Linked DNA regions of Homo sapiens. The protein of the gene in region 1 interacts with the protein of each later gene in a pairwise test. Each region holds a gene or a part of one and is shown on either strand. Other genes may lie near its edges. The genes, in order: NANOGNB and SOX4.

Region 1 (9,529 bases):
AAGCTGTGATCTACAAGTTACTGCCCTGCTCTAAACTTCAGCTTCGCAGTTGGTTCCATAGCTCAGGGGTTAGAGCACTGGTCTTGTAAACTTCAGCTTCCTCATTTATAAAATGAGGACTTGAATAATTTCTATCTCATAGGATTAGTTTAAGCGTTAGAGAATATTTATTTTTATTTATTTATTTTTTGAGACGGAGTTTCGCTCTTATTGCCCAGGCTGGAGTGCAATGGTGTGATCTCGGCTCACTGCAACCTCCACTTCCCAGGTTCAAGTGATTCTCCTGCCTCCCACTCCTGAGCAGCTGGGATTATAGGCGTGCGCCACCATGCCTAGTATTTTTAGTAGAGATGGGGCTTAGTAGAGATGGGGTTTCACCATGTTCGTCAGGCTGGCCTTGAACTCCTGACCTCAGATGATCTGCCTACCTGGGCCTCCCAAAGTGCTGGGATTACAGGCGTGAGGCACCGTGCCCGGCCGACAGGGTCTGATTTCTAGAAAATCCAAATCCTGAAAACACACTGACACCCACCCCCCACATCACACACACACACACACACACACACACACACAAACTAAGGTCCCTTGCAATCTCAATCACTATCCCTGCAAAATTCAGACTCGCAAGAATGAAAGCCACACTCCATTTTCTCCATTTGTTTGTAAGGTTGGTTCTGCACAGACAGATGAAACTACTTCACCCTGCAGAACTGCTCTATTTTCAGTGCATTTTATTTACCTGGATCCTAAGGACCACTGTCTTCACCGGATTAGTCACCTCTGGGTCAGGTCCTTCTTCCATTTGAGATTTGAAACCAAACAGCTTTGTTCCTTTTTAGTTTTTGCCACTTTCTAAGCTGTGTACCTAAGACATGTCACTTACCCTCTCAAAGTGTCAGCTGGTTTATACACAAAACGGGGGAATATGTGATGTAGCTATCATCATAGGCCTGAAATGTCCATTTCAGTTCTTACTAGTCTAAGCCTTCTCTAGCCTCTGCTCCATATTCTCTGCCAAGGGTTAAATCTCTATTTTCTTTTTTTTTCTTTTTGAGATGGAGTCTCACTCTGTCGCCCAGGCTGGAGTACAGTGGCGCGATCTCGGCTCACTGCAAGCTCTGCCTCCCAGATTTACACCATTCTCCTGCCTCAGCCTCCCAAGTAGCTGGGACTACAGACACCCACCACCACGCTCGGCTAATTTTTTGTATTTTTAGTGGAGACGGGGTTTCACCGTGTTAGCCAGGATGGTTTCAAACTTCTGACCTCGTGATCCGCCCATCTCGGCCTCCCAAAGTGCTGGGATTACAGGCGTGAGCCACCACACCTGCCCAAATCTCTATTTTCATAAGATGCATCTGCAAGGGAATAAAATACTCATCAGAGCCTAATTGCTTTTGGATAAGGTGAACTTGGAAGGGTTAGAACAGGAGCATATTATTCTCTGTCGATAACTGTCCCTTTAACCTGTTCTGTTGACTTGCCTTGCCCTGACCCCAGAGGAAATCTCAAGCAGATCCCAGAGCCTTTCCAGTCTCTCTTGCTTCCTAACAAATAATTACCTTTATTTAGGTATTTAAAAATCCATTCTCAGCCGGGCACAGTGGCTAATGCCTGTAATCCCAGCACTTTGGGAGGCCGAGGCAGGAGGATCTCTCTCTCTCTTTTTTGGGGGGACGGGGGGCGGGAATGGAGCTTCCCTCTTGTTGCCCAGGCTGTAGTGCAGTGGCGCGATCTCAGCTCACTGCAACCTCTGCCTCCCAGGTTCAAGCCATTCTCCTGCCTCAGTCTCCCAAGTAGCTGGGATTACAGGCATGAGCCACCAAGCCAGGTCTCTGTTTCTTTTTTTTTTTTTTTTCTTTTTATTTGAGACGGAGTCTCACTCTGTCGCCCAGGCTGGGGCACAGTGGCGCGATCGAGGCTCACTGCAAGCTCCACCTCCTGAGTTCACGCCATTCTCCTGCCTCAGCCTCCCCAGTAGCTGGGACTACAGGCGCCTGCCACCATGCCTGGCTAATTTTTTTGTATTTTTAGTAGAGACGGGATTTCACCATGTTACCCAGCCTGGTCTCGAACTCCTAATCTCAGGTGATCCACCCACCTCAGCCTCCCAAAGTGCTAGGATTACAGGTGTGAGCCACCGAGCCCAGATTTCTCTGTTGCTTTTTTTTTTTTTTTTAGAGAGGGAGTCTCGCTTTGCCGCCCAGGCTGGAGTGCAGTGGCATGATCTCGGCTCACTGCAAGCTCCGCCTCCCAGGTTCACGCCATTCTCCTGCCTCAGCCTCCCGAGTAGCTTGGACTACAGGCACCCACCACCACGCCCGGCTAATTTTTTGTATTTTTTAGTAGAGACGGGGTTTCACCGTGTTAGCCAGGATGGTCTCGATCTCCTGACCTTGTGATCTGCCCACCTCGGCCTCCCAAAGTGCTGGGATTACAGGCGTAAGCCACCGCGCCCGGCTTTTTTTTTTTTTTTTTTTGTATTTTTTAGTAGAGACTGGGTTTCACCGTGTTAGCCAGGATGGTCTTGATCTCCTGACCTCATGATCCACCCGCCTCGGCCTCCCAAAGTGCTGGCATTACATGCATGAGCCACCATGCCCAGCCCTTTTTTTTTTTTTTTTAAGACAGAGTCTTGCTCTGTCGCCCAGGCTGGAGTGCAGTGGCCGGATCTTGGCTAATTGCAACCTCCACCTCCCAGGTACCAGCAATTCTCCTGACTCAGCCTCCTGAGTAGCTGGGACTACAGTTGCGTGCCACCACACCCAACTAATTTTTTTTTTTTGGAGATGTACTCTTGCTCTGTCACCCAGGCTGGAGTACAGTGGCACAATCTTGGCTTACTGTAATCTCTGCCTCCCAGGTTCAAGAGATTCTCCTTCCTCAGCTCCTAAGTAGCTGGGATTACAGGCATGCGACACCACACTCTGCTAATTTTTTTGTGTTTTTAATAGAGACGGGGTTTCACCATGTTTGTCAGGCTGGTCTCGAACTCCTGACCTGATGATCCACCTGCCTCGGCCTCCCAAAGTGCTGAAATTACAGGCGTGAGCCACTGTGCCCAGCCTAATTTTCGTATTTTTTAGTAAAGACAGGGTTTCACCATGTTGGCCAGGCTGGTCTTGAACTCCTGACCTCGTCATCTACCTGCCTCGGCCTCTGAAAGTGCTGGGATTACAGGCGTGAGCCACCGCACCCGGCCTTCTCTGTTGCTTTTGAAGATCTCTTCCCTATGAGTGCCTATTCCCCGAATTTGCTTTTTGGGAACTTATCTCTTACAGCTGGCCTGTGGAACTCCCTCCTCAGCCCCCAGCTTCTGATGTCCGTGTTCCTTTCAAGAGGAGCTGCTAGGATGGAAGACCTGTAAGGCCATAGGCAGCAACTCTAATGTGCCCAGGACAGCTCAAAAGCAGCCCCTATCAAATGTTTACTCCCCTAGCTTACCTGCATCTGAGGGGACTACCAGCGACCATGACGAACAGAGACCTCCTGTCCACATTTAGCCACCGTGGACAGCTCCTGATTGCCTCTCACTTTTCAACATTGTCATGCTTGAGTCAGGTGTCGGATCCTGGGTATCCCCAAACACAAAAGTCAAACTTTGAGTGATTTTTTTTTTTTTTTTTTTTGAGACAGAGTCTTGCTCTGTCACCCAGGCTGGAGTGCTGTCGCGTGATCTCAGCTCACTGCAACCTTCACCTCCTAGATTCAAGCAATTCTCTTGCCTTAGCCTCTGGAGTAGCTGGGATTACGGGGTGTGCCACCACGCCAAGCTAATTTTTGTATTTTTAGTAGAGATGTGATTCCACCATGTTGGCCAGGCTGGTCTCGAACTCCAGACCTCAAATGATCCGCCTGCCTCAGCCTCCCAAAGTGCTGGGATTACAAGCATGAGCCACCGCACTCGGTCTTCAGTGATTCTTTAAAATTCTCTTCTCTGCCGGGCGCGGTGGCTCACGCCTGTAATCCCAGCACTTTCGGAGGCTGAGGCAGACGGATCACGAGGTCAGGAGATTGAGACCATCCTGGCTAACATGGTGAAACCCCGTCTCTACTAAAACTACAAAAAATTATTAGCCGGGCGTGGTGGCGGGCGCCTGTAGTTCCAGCTACTTGGGAGGATGAGGCAGGAGAATGGTGTGAACCCGGGAGGCGGAGCTTGCAGTGAGCCAAGATCATGCCACTGCACTCCAGCCTGGGTGACAGAGCAAGACTCCGTCTCAAAAATAAATAAATAAATAAATGAAATGAAATAAAATAAAATAAAATTCTCTTCTCTTAGCTGAGATTAACGAAGTGGTTAACAAGTGGTTAACAAGTGGTTTCTTCTACCAGAGTGTGAGGCTGGTTGTGTGACCAGGTAAGAGTATAGTCGGAGGCCAGGCACGATGGTTCATGCCTATGATCCCAGTACTTTGGGAGGCCAAGGCAGGCAGATCGCTTGAGGTCAGGAATTCCAAACCAGCCTGGCCAACATGGAGAAACCCTCATCTCTCCTAAAAATACAAAAAATTAGCTGGGCATAGTGGCACTTGGTTGTAATCCCAGCTACTTGGAGCTGAGGTAGGAGAATCACTTGAAACTGGGAGGTGGAGGTTGCAGTGAGCCGAGATCACACAAGTGCACTCCAGCCTGGTGACAGAGTAAGACTCTGTCTCAAAAATAAATAAATAAATAAATAAATAAATAAATAAATAAATAAATAAAATGGGCTGGGCAGCGGTGGCTCACACCTGTAATCCCAGCACTTTGGGAGGCCAAGGCAGGAAGATCACCTCATGTCAGGAATTCGAGGCCAGCCTGGCCAACATGGTGAAACCCTGTCTCCACTAAAAATACAAAAATTACCCGGGCGTGGTGGCAGGTGCCTGTAATCCCAGCTACTCGGGAAGCTGAGGCAGGAGAATCGCTTGAACCTGGGAGGCGGAGGTTGCAGTGAGCCAAGATTGCACCATTGCACTCCAGCCTGGGGGACAAGAAAGGAGACTTCGTCTCAAAAATTAAAATAATAATAATAATAATAATAATAATAATAATAATAATAATGGAATCAGGGGTCTCACCGTGATGCCCAAGCTGTTCTTGAACTCCTGAGCTCAAACAATTCTTCTGCCTTGGCCTTCCAAAATACTAGGATTACAGATGTGAGACACCTCACCCGACCAAGTAGCATTTTCATAAAATATTTATGTATTTATTTATTTTTAACATGGAGTCTCACTGTCTGTCCCCGAATGGAGTGCAGTGGCAGTATCTTGGCTCACTGCAACCTCTGCCTCTTAGGTTCAAGCGATTCTCCTGCCTCAGCCTCCAAGTAGCTGGGATCACAAGCACGTACTTCTACACAAGCTAAGTTTTGTATTTTTAGTAGAGATGGAGTTTTACCATGTTGGTCAGGCTGGTCTTGAACTTCTGATCTTAAATGATCTGCCCGCCTTGACCTCCCAAAGTGCTAGGATTACAGGCATGAGCCACCACGCCCAGCCCTACATTTTTTTTTTCCTGTCTCTCCACTGTATTTTGGAAAGCATTTTCTTATCAGTATATCTCACTATTTGGGACACTCTGCAACATGTAAATTGAACATTTTTCATATGGCTATTTGAAAAGTTTTTTTTCTTCATGGCTCCAAAAATAGATGTCAGGAAATGTGTTCTTTTTGTGGAATTCCTTTTGTGAATTGCCACTGGGTGCTCATATTTGTGGCCCACTGACATCCAAAAGATGGATGACATCTACCTTATCTGGTCGGTCATCTCTGTAACCTCCCTACCAAGGACTAATTGGTCTTTAAAACTCCTCAATGCACCGGGCGCGGTGGCTCACGCCTGTAATCCCAGCACTTTGGGAGGCCGAGGCGGGCAGATCACGAGGTCAGGAAATCGAGACCATCTTGGCTAACAAGGTAAAACCCCGTTTCTACTAAAAATACAAAAAATTAGCTGGGCGTGGTGGCGGGCGCCTGTAGTCCTAGCTACTCTGGAGGCTGAGGCGGGAGAATGGCGTGAACCCGGGAGGCGGAGCTTGCAGTGAGCCGAGATCGCGCCACTGCACTCCAGCCTGGGCGACAGAGTGAGACTCCGTCTCAAAAAAAAAAAAAAAAAAAAGAAGTGGCAGTTGTCTGGATATATTTTAAAGAAAGAAAAGCAAGACTTTCTGACAGATTGAGTTGAGCTATGAGAAAGGGAAGAAGTGAAAGACAGCACCAAGCTTTTTGACTCAAACCACTGGGCAGATGGAGTTGGCTTTACTAAGATAGAGAGGCCTGAGTGGGTCAGCGTTCAGTGAAGGGAGCCATAAACTGAGTTTGGGAATTTTAAGTTCAATTCACATAACTTATTAGACATCCAAGCAGAGATATTGAATTGGGAGTTTGACATAGAAGACTGGAAATAAAAATTTGAAAATAATCTCCCTTTTGGGCAGTATTAAAAACCATGAGATTAGATGACCTGGATTAGAGCTACATGTAAAGGAGATAAGAGGTGAAGGGATTTAACCTTGAGTGTGATTGAAAAAGCACAGGGACAGAAATCAGTAGGGGAAAGAGGAGCAACAAAGAAAGCTTTGAAAGAGCAGCCATTGACTTGAGGAAGCCCCAGGAAAGGATGGTGTTCAGGAAGTGGGAGAATAAACTCTTTCAATGTGGAGAGAGATCCCGATACTTCAGAAGCCCCTGATCATTCAAGTAAGTAAGATGGGGACAGGCCAGGCACAGTGGCTCACACCTCAAATCCCAGCACTTTGGGAGGCCAAGCGGGGCAGATCGCTTGAGCTCAGGAGTTGAAGACCATCCTGGCCAAGATGATGAAACCCCCCATCTCCACCAAAAATACAACAATTAGCCGGGCTTGGTGAGGCACGCCTGTAGTCCCAGCTACTCAGGAGGCTGAGGCAAGAGAATCCTTCGAGCCCAGAAGGCAGAGGTTGTGGTGAGCTGAGATCCAGCCACTGCACTCCAGTCTGGGCTTCAGAGTGAGACTCCGTCTCAACAAAACAAAACAGCAAACAAACAAAACAAAACAAACCCACTATCTCACCACCACGATACCCTTAAAAGAAAATGGGGATGGGAAATTGGCCATTTGATTTCTTTTCTTTTGTTTTTGTTTCTTGAGTCACAGTCTTGTTCTGTTGCCCAGGCTGGAGTGGCACAATCTCAACTAACTGCGACCTCCCCCTCCCGGGGTTCAAAAGACATGTCCGATTAGTTTTTTGTATTTTTAATAGAGACGGGGTTTCACCATGTTGGCCAGGCTGGTCCTGAACTCCTGACCTCAAGTGGTCCACCCACTTCGGCCTCCCAAAGTGCTGCGATTACAGGAGTGACCCTCCACGCCTGGCCTTTGTTTTGTTGTTGTTTGTTTGTTTGTTTTGAGACTGAGTTTTGCTCTGTTGCCCAGGCTGGAGCACAGTGGGGCGATCTCAGCTCACTGCAATCTTTGCCTCCCGGGTTCAAGCGATTCTCCTGCCTCAACTTCTCAAGTAGCTGGGACTACAGGCGTGCGCCACCAAGCCTAGCTAATTTTTGTATTTTTAGTAGAGACAGGGTTTCACCATGTTGGCCAAGCTGGTCTCAAACTCCTGGCCTCAGGTGATCTGCCTGCCTTGGCTTCCCAAAATGCTGGGATTACAGGCGGGAACCACCGTGCCTGGCAGCCATTTTACTTTTTTTGCAATGTCAGGGTCATTAATGTCTGACTCTGAAGAGGAATGTGTGGAAGTGGATGTGAAAGCCTGATTGGAGAATATTCAAGAGAGAATGAGGGGAGAAAAATCACCAACAGGCAAAGAACACATACAGAGAACTCTTTAAAATTTTCTTACACTTTATCACATTCTGTAAAAGAAATTGAGAAGAGGAGTGGTAGCAATAGAAGGATGTGGGTTACAAGAGGGTTTTTTTTTTTTTTTTCTAACAAAAGAAAACTTGTGGCCTGGTGTGGTGGCTCACGCCTGTAATCCCAGCACTTTGGAATGCCAAGGCGGACAGATCACTGAAGCTGACGATTTCGAGACCAACAACAGCACAGTTAGCTGCCATCCCACCTCACCCACTGCCGTCTCTTAAAAATAAATACATTATTTTTTTAAAAGAAAATGTATACCAATTAGCAGACACTCCGAATTTTATCCCACCCTCATCTCTGATAATCACTAATTTACTTTCTGTCTCTATAGGTTTGCCTATGCTGGACATTTCATATAAACAGAATCATACAATATATGACTTTTTGTATTTCAACTTTCACTTAACTTGCTTTCCTTTTTCCTCTTTTTTTTTTTTTTTTTCCGGTGTGGCAGGGTCTTGCTCTGTCACCCAGGTGGGAGTGCAGTGTCATGATCAGGACTCACTGCAGCCTTGACCTCCTGGACTCAAGTGATCCTCTCACCTCATTTTTTTATTTTTTGCGGAGAGGAGACCTCACTCTGTTGCCCAGGCTGGTTTTGAACTCCTGGGCTCAAGCAGTCCTCTCGCCTCGGCCTCCCAAAGTGCTGGGATTACAGGCGTGAGTCACCACATCCAGCCCCCGCTTAGCTTGTTTTCAATATTCATCCATGTTGAGCATGAATCAGTATTTTATTTCCTTTTGTGGCTAAATAATAGTCTATTGTATAGATATAATACATTTTGTTTAAAGGGGCAATTGCTGGGTCATATGGTAACTTTAAATTTTAGAGAAACGGTCTTTTTCTGCCTCTATTGAGATGATTGCATGTTTTTTTCCTTTATTCTATTCATATGATGTATTACATTGATTTTCCTATTTTGAACTAATCACATATTTCTAGAATAAATCCTACTTGGTTATGGTGCATAATCGTTTTACTGTGTTGCTGGATTTAGGATTGCTAGCATTTTGTTGAAGTTTTTGCCTCCATATTCATAATGGACATTAATCTATAGTTTTTTAGGGGTGATATCTGTCTGGTTTGAGTATCAGTGTGATGGTCTTTAATGTGGCAACTTGGGTAGGCTATAGACCCCAGTTATTCAATCAAACACTAGGTGCCACTGGCATATTTCTTTTCTTTCTTTCTTTTTTTTTTTTGAGAGGGATTCTCGCTCTGTCATCCAGGCTGCAGTCCAGTGGCACGATGTCAGCTGGCAGGATGTCAGCTCACTGCAAGCTCCGCCTCCCTGGTTCTTGCCATTCTCCTGCCTCAGCCTCCGGAGTAGCTGGGACTACAGGCACCCGCCGCCATGCCCCGCTAATTTTTTGTATTTTTAGTAGAGACCGGGTTTCACTGTGTTAGCCAGGATGGTCTCAATCTCCTGACCTCGTGATCTGCCCGCCTCAGCCTCCCAAAGTGCTGGGATTACAGGCGTGAGCCACCGCGCCCGGCCGGCATATTTCTTTTCTTTTGAGACAGAGTCTTGCTCTGTCACCCAGGCTGGAGTGCAGTGGCTGGGCTGGGATTATAGGCATGAGCCACCACGCCGGGCCTTGTTACTGGCATTTTTAGATGTAATTAAAATCCATATTAATCGTCTTCAAGTAAAAGGGATTATAATCTGAGAAAGCCT
Region 2 (9,923 bases), on another chromosome or scaffold:
ACAATTATATTTAGCGACAAGTAGAAAGGATTAAATAGTCAAATACAAGAATGAAAAACGCAGTACATAGTGTCGCGAACTCAAATCGGCATTTAGATAGATCCAGTGGTTTAAACGGCACGTTTTTGCTTATAAAAAAAGTGCAAAAAAGATGTGGTTTACAAGTTAAAGCTACAGAATCCCTTTTTGCTGTAATTGCACCAGTTTTAAAGCCTCTGGACAGAGCAGTATTTCGTTTAAAACTTTGTTTTTCTTAAAAGCTTACAGTGTTTGGCTAATTCTCCTCCCCTTTTTACAAGACGGGGGCCGGAGGGTGGACACTGGTGGCAGGTTAAGGGATACTGTCACTTTAAGAAGCCTGCAGATTGAAGTGTAAACATGGAGAAATTAGGGGCTGATTTTTTAAACTGTGTGAGATATTAACCAGCCGCCCTGTTATAAAATCAGGAAATCCAAACAGCGATTTACACCGATTAACACCCCCTTTATATATTTTTTACAAAAATACACTGAGAAAATAATCAAACGTTTTCATCTCTCTTGTCTTTTTTTGTTTTTTAAAAGTGTCAAAAGTCTACATTTAAATATAAAAAATTAAAAGTTAAAACTCTAGCCCTTCAGTGAAGGAGACGTAAAATGGCGTGGGTAACAACAACTACCAAAAAAAAAAAAAAAAAAAGAAAAAAAAAAGAAAAAAAGGAAAAGGAAGGAATAAAGAAATAAAGGAAGTAAAAAGAAAGGAAAGAAAAAAAGGGACAAAAGAAAAAATATGTTTGGCCAGTATAAATACGTCCACATATAAAATGGCATCTGATTACATTTACAAGGAAAAAGAAATACGAGGATGGAGCATCGGTGAAGGAAAAAAACACGTCTTCTCATTTACACCTATAAGGAATAAACACACACACTGAGAAAAAATTTGGTCCTGAATTGTTTTTTTAAAGTCCAGCACAGATTTGAGTTGCGTTTGAATCCTTTAAAGAGTTAAGAATGAAAAAAAGCTGGTGATAATTTCGTTGTAGGAATCAAACATAGCGCCATCTATCTGCTTTTTATATTATCCTACACTATTTTAAAAACTGCTCAACAGTCTTATACAGAAATCTTTAAAAGATAGACAGGATAACATGCTATATTAACCCCACCATTGAAATAATCCAACACCATCACGATTCCGATTAAGAGAAGAAAAAAATCTTTTTTTTTTCTTTTTTTTTCTTTTTTTCTTTTTTTTTTTCCGAAACCACTCGCCCTCCACTGACTGCCCCTGTACCACATCAAACAGTCTCCTCTCCTCCACGCCTCCGGGGTCTGGGAAGTCTCACCTCACTGATTTCACGTAGAAAAGAAGGCGGAGGCCCAGCAGCCGCCGCCGCCAGCTCCCCAACGTGCAAATCCATTTCAGTTTGACCGTGAACCCCCTTCCAGTTCGTGTCCTCCTCCGCCCCCGCCCCTAGCTCCCGCTGCTGCGCTTCCAACGGGGTTCTCGGGTCATTTCCTAGCGCCGGTCACACTGGCTGGCCTCCTCCCCTCAACATCTCCTCCTCCGGCTGCAGAGGGGGCAAGGGGAAAAGAGGGAGGAAAAAAAAGCCCCAAACGGGAATTCGCCTGCGTGGAGTCTCTCAGTCCCGGCGTTCCCCCAAAACATCTGCCATCGGCCAAATTCGTCACCCCGGAGCCTTCTGTCTTCATCACGCGTTTAAAAAAAGGGGGGGAGGGGTGCGCTGGGTTCTCCCCTCCTTTCTTGACCAAGAAGCAAAATAAAACAAAACCAAGGTGGTGATGCAGGAAGGGGGAGACTCCTTCAAGTCTCTAGAAAACTAACTCGCCTTCTTGCTGGGGGTGCAGACAAGTCCGGAAGCTCGTTGGAAGGGGGAGGGGGTCTCTTCAAGCAAAGGGGAGCAAACTCGAAGTCGCTTTTTTTTTTTTGCCATCAACAACAACATCAATAACAACAATCACAGGTCGCCCCTGTCTACCCTCTTCCTCCTCCGCGTCCCTCCGGCTGGGCAGAGTGGGTCCCCGGCCCGGGAAGGTGGGGGATGGGAGCGCGGGTCCAAAACGCCGCCGCGCTCCTTGATCCGACGACGAGAACGCGGGCGAAGCCAGCCCTGCTTACTTTTTCTTTCTTTTTTCCCTTTTCTCTTTAAACTCTTCGTCTGTCCTTTTCGTTTCTTTTTTTCACTTTTTTTTTCTCCTCTCCTACCCCCCCCGGCCCTTCTCCCTGCCTGCGCGCCCTTCAGTAGGTGAAAACCAGGTTGGAGATGCTGGACTCGAGCCAGTCTCCCGAGATCATCTCGCTCACCTCGGGCGTGCAGTAGTCCGGGAACTCGAAGTGCGAGCCGGAGCCGGGCTCGAAGTTAAAATCCAGGTCCCGGTCGAGCGCCGACGACGAACTGAAGCTGCCCAGGGACATGCTCTCAAAGTTTGAGCTGGGGTTCAGGTCGAGCAGGTCGTCTTCGAACTCGTCGTCGGAGGACGAGGAGCCCGAGGAGGAGGAAGAGGAGGAGTGGGACGAGGCCGAGGAGGACGCGTGCGAGGGCGCGCTGGACGGGGCGGGCGAGGCGGCGCGCAGGCTGGCGTAGCCGCGGTGGTCGGCGGGCGAGCGGCCGGCGGCGGGGGACGAGGCGGCGCTGCTGCGGCCGCTCAGGCTGGGCGCGTCGGGCGAGCAGCCCGCGCCCTCCTCCTCGTACAGGCCCAGGGGGTCGCTGGGGTCGGCTCCCGCGCCCACGCCGCCCACGGGCGACGACGACGTGCCCAGGCCGCCGAACAGGTAGACGCGCTTCACCTTCTTCTCCGCCAGGTGCTTGCCCGGGGCCGCGAGCGCTGCGGAGGCCGAGGCTGCCGAGGAGGCGGAGGCCGAGGCGCTGGGAGTCCGCGCCTTGTACAGCGAGTGGTGGTCGGCGGCGGCGCCCAGGGGCAGCAGGGCGGCGGCCCCCGCCTGTTCGGCGGCGAAGGAGGCGGCGGCGGCAGCCGCTGCTTTCCCGCCGCCGCCGCCGCCTGCCAGGATGAGCTTGGCGTGCGGTTTGCTAACCCCACCGCCCGCGCCGCCCGCCACTTTGGAGCCGCAGCTCTTTTTCTGCGCCGGTTTGGAGTTGGCGCCGCCGCCACTCGCACCGCCGCCTCCTCCCCCCGCGTTGCTGCTCCCGCCGCCGCCGCCGCCCCCATGGCCGCCCCCGCCACTGCCACCGACCTTGTCTCCCTTCTCCCCCGGCTTGGAGGAGGCGGCGGCCGAGGAGCTGGAGTTGGCGTTGCCGGACTTCACCTTCTTCCTGGGCCGGTACTTGTAGTCGGGGTAGTCAGCCATGTGCTTGAGGCGCAGCCGCTCCGCCTCTCGAATGAAAGGGATCTTGTCGCTGTCTTTGAGCAGCTTCCAGCGTTTGCCCAGCCGCTTGGAGATCTCGGCGTTGTGCATGTCGGGCGACTGCTCCATGATCTTGCGCCGCTCGATCTGCGACCACACCATGAAGGCGTTCATGGGTCGCTTGATGTGCCCACTCGGGGTCTTGCACCAGCTCGGGTCGTCGGCCTTGCCGCCCGTGGAGGCGGTGGAGCCGGGCGTGGGGGAGGAGGCGATTCCCAGCTCGAGGCCGGCGCCCGAGTCCGAGCTCTCGCCGGCCAGCAGCGCTTCCGTGTTCTCGGCATTGTTGGTTTGCTGCACCATGGCCTCGGCTCGGCGGGCGCCCACGCGCGCTCACACCCTCGCGGCGGCCGCCGCGCGATCGCCGGGCCCTCCCGGTTCCCCGGGCCAAGCACACGCCGAACGGGAAGACGCGCGCGGCGGCCGAACTGGCCCCTCAACTCCTCGCAGGGGCGGAGGTGGGTAAAGAGAGAAAAGTCCCCAAAAGATTTGGGGAAGGAGTTCTCCGCCTCTCGCAGAGGAGTTATAGTTCCCAGGCTGGAGAGTCTCTCTCTCCCTCTCTCTCGCTCTCTCACCGCGCTGCAGTTTGCTGTCTCTCGGCTGAGTCTGGAGACCGTGCTAAAGTAGAGAGGAGTTTCTCGAATGCTGGTTGCTGAAGCTTCCAATGCAAGTTTCTCGCGGCCTCCCAGGCAAGTCTTTTTTTTTTTTTTTTCTTTTTCCCTGAAGCAGTTGATTCCAGTTCACGAGCGCTCTCGGTAGCTCAGGAAAGCGACATAGTCTCTAGCACTTAGTCCCTCTCCTACAATGCAAAGCAAAAAAGACTGTGGCTCCAGGACTCTCTGTGGGCGGAATCGGCACTAAGGAGTTGGTGCAATTATTTTGTTGCAAGGTAGGAAGCCAAAAAGCCTGCATGCAACAGACTGGCATGAATAAATGTATGTTTCCCCCTCCCTTCTGCAAGAAGGGAGCTGGTAATGGCAGGAGTTCCTCCAGTGCAGACTCTTAAAGAGCGTGCAAGAACTAGAGACCCGACAGCGAAACAGGCCTCTTCCCCTCACACACAGTTTCTCTTGCTGCAGCTTAGAGCAGACCCCAATTCCGCCTCGCGCCTCTTTATCCTTTCACAGTCTTGGCTGCAGCCAATCAGCTGCTGTAACCAACGCTTCCTCATGCCAAACCCCTCCCCCGGGCTTCCCATTGGCTTGGAACCCGATGCAATAATAATCTCCGCGTGCAATGAGAAGCTCCAAATCTGACCTCATTCCAATTTACAGAGCAAACTTTTTAAAAGGGCTAGAAGTACAGCTGAGATTTCTGCTGCCTCTTTTTTCCTTTTGCTGTGTGTGTGCGCGCGCGTGTGTGTGCGCGCGTGCGTGTGTGTATAGTGTGTGAAGAGGATGTTAATGCATGAAATTATTAAGGGGAGAGACGGAAATGTATTCTAACCATTATGTTAGATAACAAGGGGCTTGGAACGGGGCGGGGTAAGGGTGAAATACTGTAAATGGAAGCTTTCTGCTTAAAAGCCAAGTGATTATTTTTATTAGTTCTTTTCAGCATTGGAATAAAGAATCAGCCTCTGGTGCAAAATCTGTTCCCCAGCTCTTTCTTAAAGCCAAAGCTGTAAAGGGGAAGAGAAAGCCACAAAACAATAAATCAATGGATATTGAAAACCATTAAGAAAGTGGTACCTAGACACCTGTCATCACAATTATTTTAACAACTCTAGGTACAGCACAGATGTTGATGTATTGTGTAAATCCCTTCAGAACCGTTTTTGTGCTGTTTGTGGAAGGCAGGGAAGAGGACTTTGCAATAATTGCTTACTCTCTTAACCAAGCAAGGGTCAACTATGGTTATTTAATGATTTAAACTCCCTGTAAATCCTGCATAGCCCAAACAGGGGAGCTTTCCCTTGAAACACATTAGGTAGTGCTCCGTAATTACCTCAATAGGCAGATTTCCAGAGTTTTGTATAGGATGTATAATGGCATGTAAAGGATGGAAATCGGTTTTACTTTCTAAATATTTGTTTTCCCTGTTTTCAAAATTAAAGATTGCTTCACTCTCTTCCCTCTCCTCCTCCCAAAGCCATCTTCCTCCTTTCCTTCTTATATATTTCCTCTTGTTACTTGAATCGAAGGGAACTGAAAAACCAAGGCAAAGAGAAACTGTAGAAGGAGGTGATAACTGGTAGCAGAAGAGAATGGGGCCTCCGGATTCATAGTAGACCTGGCTGCTAATCCTTCTTAATGGTTTGTAACTATGGGGATGTGGCCAAGTCTCAGTTTTCCTCATCTATTATATGGGAACACTAGGAGCTACTTTATAGAGGGTTGTTGTGAGGGTTCAATGAATTTGTGACTATGAAGCACCTGATGTATTGTAAGCCCTCAATGAATACTAATATCTTCCTTTCTAATTCAAATGCCAGACACACTCCTAGTAAAAGCTGCATGTTGTTCAAGAGGCTAAAACAGAATAGCCACTTATGTAAAAAAGTAATAACAGGCAGGACGCGGTGGCTCACGCCTGTAATCCCAGCACTTTGGGAGGCTAAGGTGGGTGGATCACTTCAGGTCAGGAGTTCGAGACCAGCCTGGTCAACATGGTGAAACCCTGTCTCTACTAAAAATTAAAAAATTAAAAAATTAGCTGGGCAGGGATGCATGCGCCTGTAATTCCAGCTACTCGAGAAGCTAAGGCGGGAGAATTGCTTGAACCCAGGAGGTTGCAGTGAGCTAAGATTGAGCCACTGCACTCCAGTGTGGGTGATAGCGTGTGACTATCTCAAAAAAAAAAAAAAAGTAATCACAGATCATTGATGTGAACCATAGAAGGACAATAGTGGCAACCCTGCCATTCCATTGATTTTAAAAGAAAGGAACTCCATGAAGAATACTAAGAAGAATGTGGCAAAGAAAGGATGCCAAGGTATTCAAAATAAACGTTGGCTACAGAAATTACTTGTTTTCCAGTGTCTGAAAATTAGAATTGTAGTAAAAATCAGCTTTCCTTAACACTATAATAGGAAACTAATATTCTTCAGGCTAACCATAAGTGGTTAGGTAAAGTCAATCCAAAATAATTAAGTCGGCTTTTGATTCAGATTAAACTAGTGCTGGGTAGTAAATTTCTATGTATCTTGTCAAACTTTTAAAGTATGTAGGCTGGCAATAGGCCCAGGTTGTCAGACTTAGAATTTTACTGGAAAGAACACCCTATGTAGCCATCTGACTGGATCTGTAAGGATCAACCACAAGCAAAACTGTTTTTGTGGGTAAAAGCAAATAATTTTTGACGATTAGCTACTTGTATTACATAATTTTTTTAAAAAAGGAGAAACAAATCCTTAAAAAAAGAAAAACCCAAACCAAAAACACACAGGCACCTTTTTTGCATAACAGTGTTGCTGTGTTATATACTACATTTTCTCTGGTGTGCATAGAAACACATCCTTAAATGTTACCAATCTGACAAAAAAAAATTATTTTAAGAGGGCTATTATCTATAAGATCAATATTTTCACTAGAATAAAAAAGAATATTTATTTTTGAATTTGTACTAACTAATGATTTGAGGGTGTAGCTAGTTTGATAATTCAGTCAAGTTGAGTATCAACATTATTGATTATATTTCTCAGTCATTTATGCTTCCATCATCGAATATGATAGGGAAGAGTGGAAGTTAAAGCAGTCATATATGTTTCTGCTTAAAACACATGGATTTTTTAAAGGGTGTACTAAAACACAGCCACTGGCCTCATTCTTTTGTTACATGTATTTTCTGTATTTCAACAAATCCAACAAATTTTAAGACACACCATTATATTACATTCCACCAAGGAAGAAAGCTGCCAATGAAACTGTGATATCCCCCTAGATGTAGGATGCCTCCTTATTTCAGGAAGAGTTGAAATGAAAAGAAAAATTTCCTCTTAGACTTGATGAAATATGGTATCAGTAACTTCCATTGACTTTATAATTACTGCATATATATTTATATATTACACAAGTGCCTAGACTTCTGAAATAGATCTGTTCTAATGGGTTAGTTCTCTTAGAATGTAAGAAAACATATGACGAATGCCCTTTTATTAAAGTCATCTTTGTGACCAACTAAGTGTGTGCACACTGGAATGTGTTGGACCTCTCAATACCAAATAATGAGAAAAGATTTCTCCCTTCTCATTCCCTAACTTCATATGCTCTGTAATCAGTTCTCCATTACTGACATTTTTTTCCCCAAATACCAGATATTTGGTGGCCCCTACTAAATCAGTACGCAGTGTTCCCTCTGCTGGCTTTGCAGTACATGAAGTAATTCTTAATGCTAGTCTTTTAGCTGTATTAAGAGAAAGCCAAGATAATTTTGCAGAAAAAAAAAATCCTGGTTTAGAATAATAAACTGTCTTTGTTAGCAATGATGTTAGACATTTCCAATTTTGAATTAGGTATTTTATTTTATTCCCTTAAATGATGGAATTCCATTTGAGATGTAAGTGTAATATCTGCTAATGCATTTCTTCTGCTCTCACACATCTACACAACATAAAATCTCACATCCATACAATGGTATGGGGCATAGATGAAATAAGATTCTATTCCACTGCTTAATATATTCCTTTGGCATGGAGGGAGGGACCTGAATGGAAATTAGTTTAACAAATCTGGATTTGCACTGATTTGCAAGATTTTGCCTTGCCTTGGTTATAGAAACTATGATTGTAGGCGCTAGTCAGACCTGACAAGTATTCAGTTCAAATAAAATAAAGAGGAGGAAAAACTGTGTAGTTGTTACTTTACCTGACAAGGAAGAAGCCCTGGGAAATCTGATGTCATTGGCCTTTGTCAACTGAAAGGCGCCAGTTTTTTTGGTTCCACACTTTATGGAAAAGAAGCCTCCATGTGAGGCTGATTTACTTCTCAGTCAAGTAGACAAACATAACTTGCACTTCATCCTTTTGGGCTGATGACATTGCATTGTAACTGGGCTCAGCGCGTAATGGGGGTGGGGGTGCGTGCATTGAAAAATAATATATGGAAATAACTCATATTTGCAAAATATCAAAATAGGATTCTGGGGTAAATGAAACCTAGCATTTATTTTTATCACTAGAATAAGCTAAGAGTTAAGAAACCTGCATTTCTAACAATTGTACCATTTTCCTCTCATAACCAGTGACTAGCACACAGTAGGCTTAAGCTGTTCATGCCAATGCCAACTCATTATTCCTTTCCTTCGATTTTCTCAAGAAAACAAGCAGAAGACGAATGTTTGCAGGGCCACTTGGATTGCAAGCATGAATACAGGCTTCTGCTTCTATTCTAGAGGCAGAGGCACGGCACCCGGGGAGAGCCTGGGTTTGTCTGCAGCCAGCCGGCTCCCAATCTGGGGAGAAGCAGCCGCCAGGTGGCATCGCTGAGCCTCCCTGCGCCCGCGAGGCGAGGTAGGAAATCGTGGGGATAGTCAGTCTTCTTTCTTCTCCCCCTTCCTCCTCTCCCGACCCCCCTACCACTCCCTACCACTGTACCTTCTTTAGTTAGAGGCTTAAACGCTCAACGAGTAACAGGGTATGTCGATGAATTCTGATTTTTTTTCATAAATCAAAGTTTAGGGCAACCACCCGCCGCCTCCTGCTCACTTGTCAGGAGCTCCGGGTGACGGGGGAAGCCTAGACCAGCTTCCTGTCTGGATCAGGTAACCCAACTCGGGGGATTATCAATTTCAGTTTCCCTGTCTTCTTGCTAAAGTGAATGCAGTTTCTCCGGCTTCCGAGAGCGGCTGCAGAGAAACGACGCGCCTTACTTAAGGACTCCAGTGCAAAGGCCACTCCCTACTCAAAAAAAAAAAAAAAAAAAAAAAAAAAAAAAGAGGTTTCCTTCAGGCAGAACGCCTTCCGGAGCGCAGCGACTCGGTCTCGCAGGCACGGCGCTCTCCCTGGCTTAAGCTCGCCAAGGATTAATGGTGCTCAGCCTCGCTCCGCCGCGGCAGCCGAACCTCTCCTTTCGCTTACAGTTACAGGGAGGAAATAAATTGGAATCGACTCAGACTGTGCTTTCTGGAGGAAAGTCCTTCCTACTGTAAACATGTTTCAGGCGATCCTGTCAGCAGCATTTTAACACCCGTCTTCCGTTTAGGTTTTACGACCGGGGAAGGAGCTGAAGACACGCGCGCGCACACACACACAAACGCGGGCGCAGACGCAGCCCAAGCGAGGACACCTCCCGCACCCTCGCGGGCTCCCAGCCCTCCTTTGAATTTGCAACCGGTCGCGGATAGGTTGGGGGGGTCGTTTCCCAGGAGCTTGGCTCCTCCGTCCTCCTACCCCATCCCCTGGCCCTTGGAGATGCTGTCCAGTTCCGTCACTGACCAGAACTGACAGCCACTTGGCCCCCTGCTCTCTTGAGTGCCCAGCATCCTTTGCTCTGGACGACTAAATGCTCTCTGTGAGCCTTGCTTGGTTGGTACGGCGCGCGCTGTGCGTGTGGGACCCACTCTTCGGCAGGCACACGACCTTCGTACACCGGCTGGGCAACCACCCACTTCATCCCCTCCC

The links.
Region 2: the proteins of NANOGNB (region 1) and SOX4 interact in a two-hybrid assay, tested with the Homo sapiens proteins (one study listed by BioGRID).

The regions. Positions count from the first base shown.
Region 1 is NC_000012.12:7,759,483-7,769,011, forward strand, and holds the start of NANOGNB (NANOG neighbor homeobox), read left to right. Parts: upstream 1-5,733; 5' UTR 5,734-5,803; coding exon 5,804-5,905; intron 5,906-9,529.
Region 2 is NC_000006.12:21,588,279-21,598,201, reverse strand, and holds the start of SOX4 (transcription factor SOX-4), read right to left. Parts: upstream 4,452-9,923; 5' UTR 3,668-4,451; coding exon 2,243-3,667; 3' UTR 1-2,242. UniProt on the Homo sapiens protein: Transcriptional activator that binds with high affinity to the T-cell enhancer motif 5'-AACAAAG-3' motif. Required for IL17A-producing Vgamma2-positive gamma-delta T-cell maturation and development, via binding to regulator loci of RORC to modulate expression.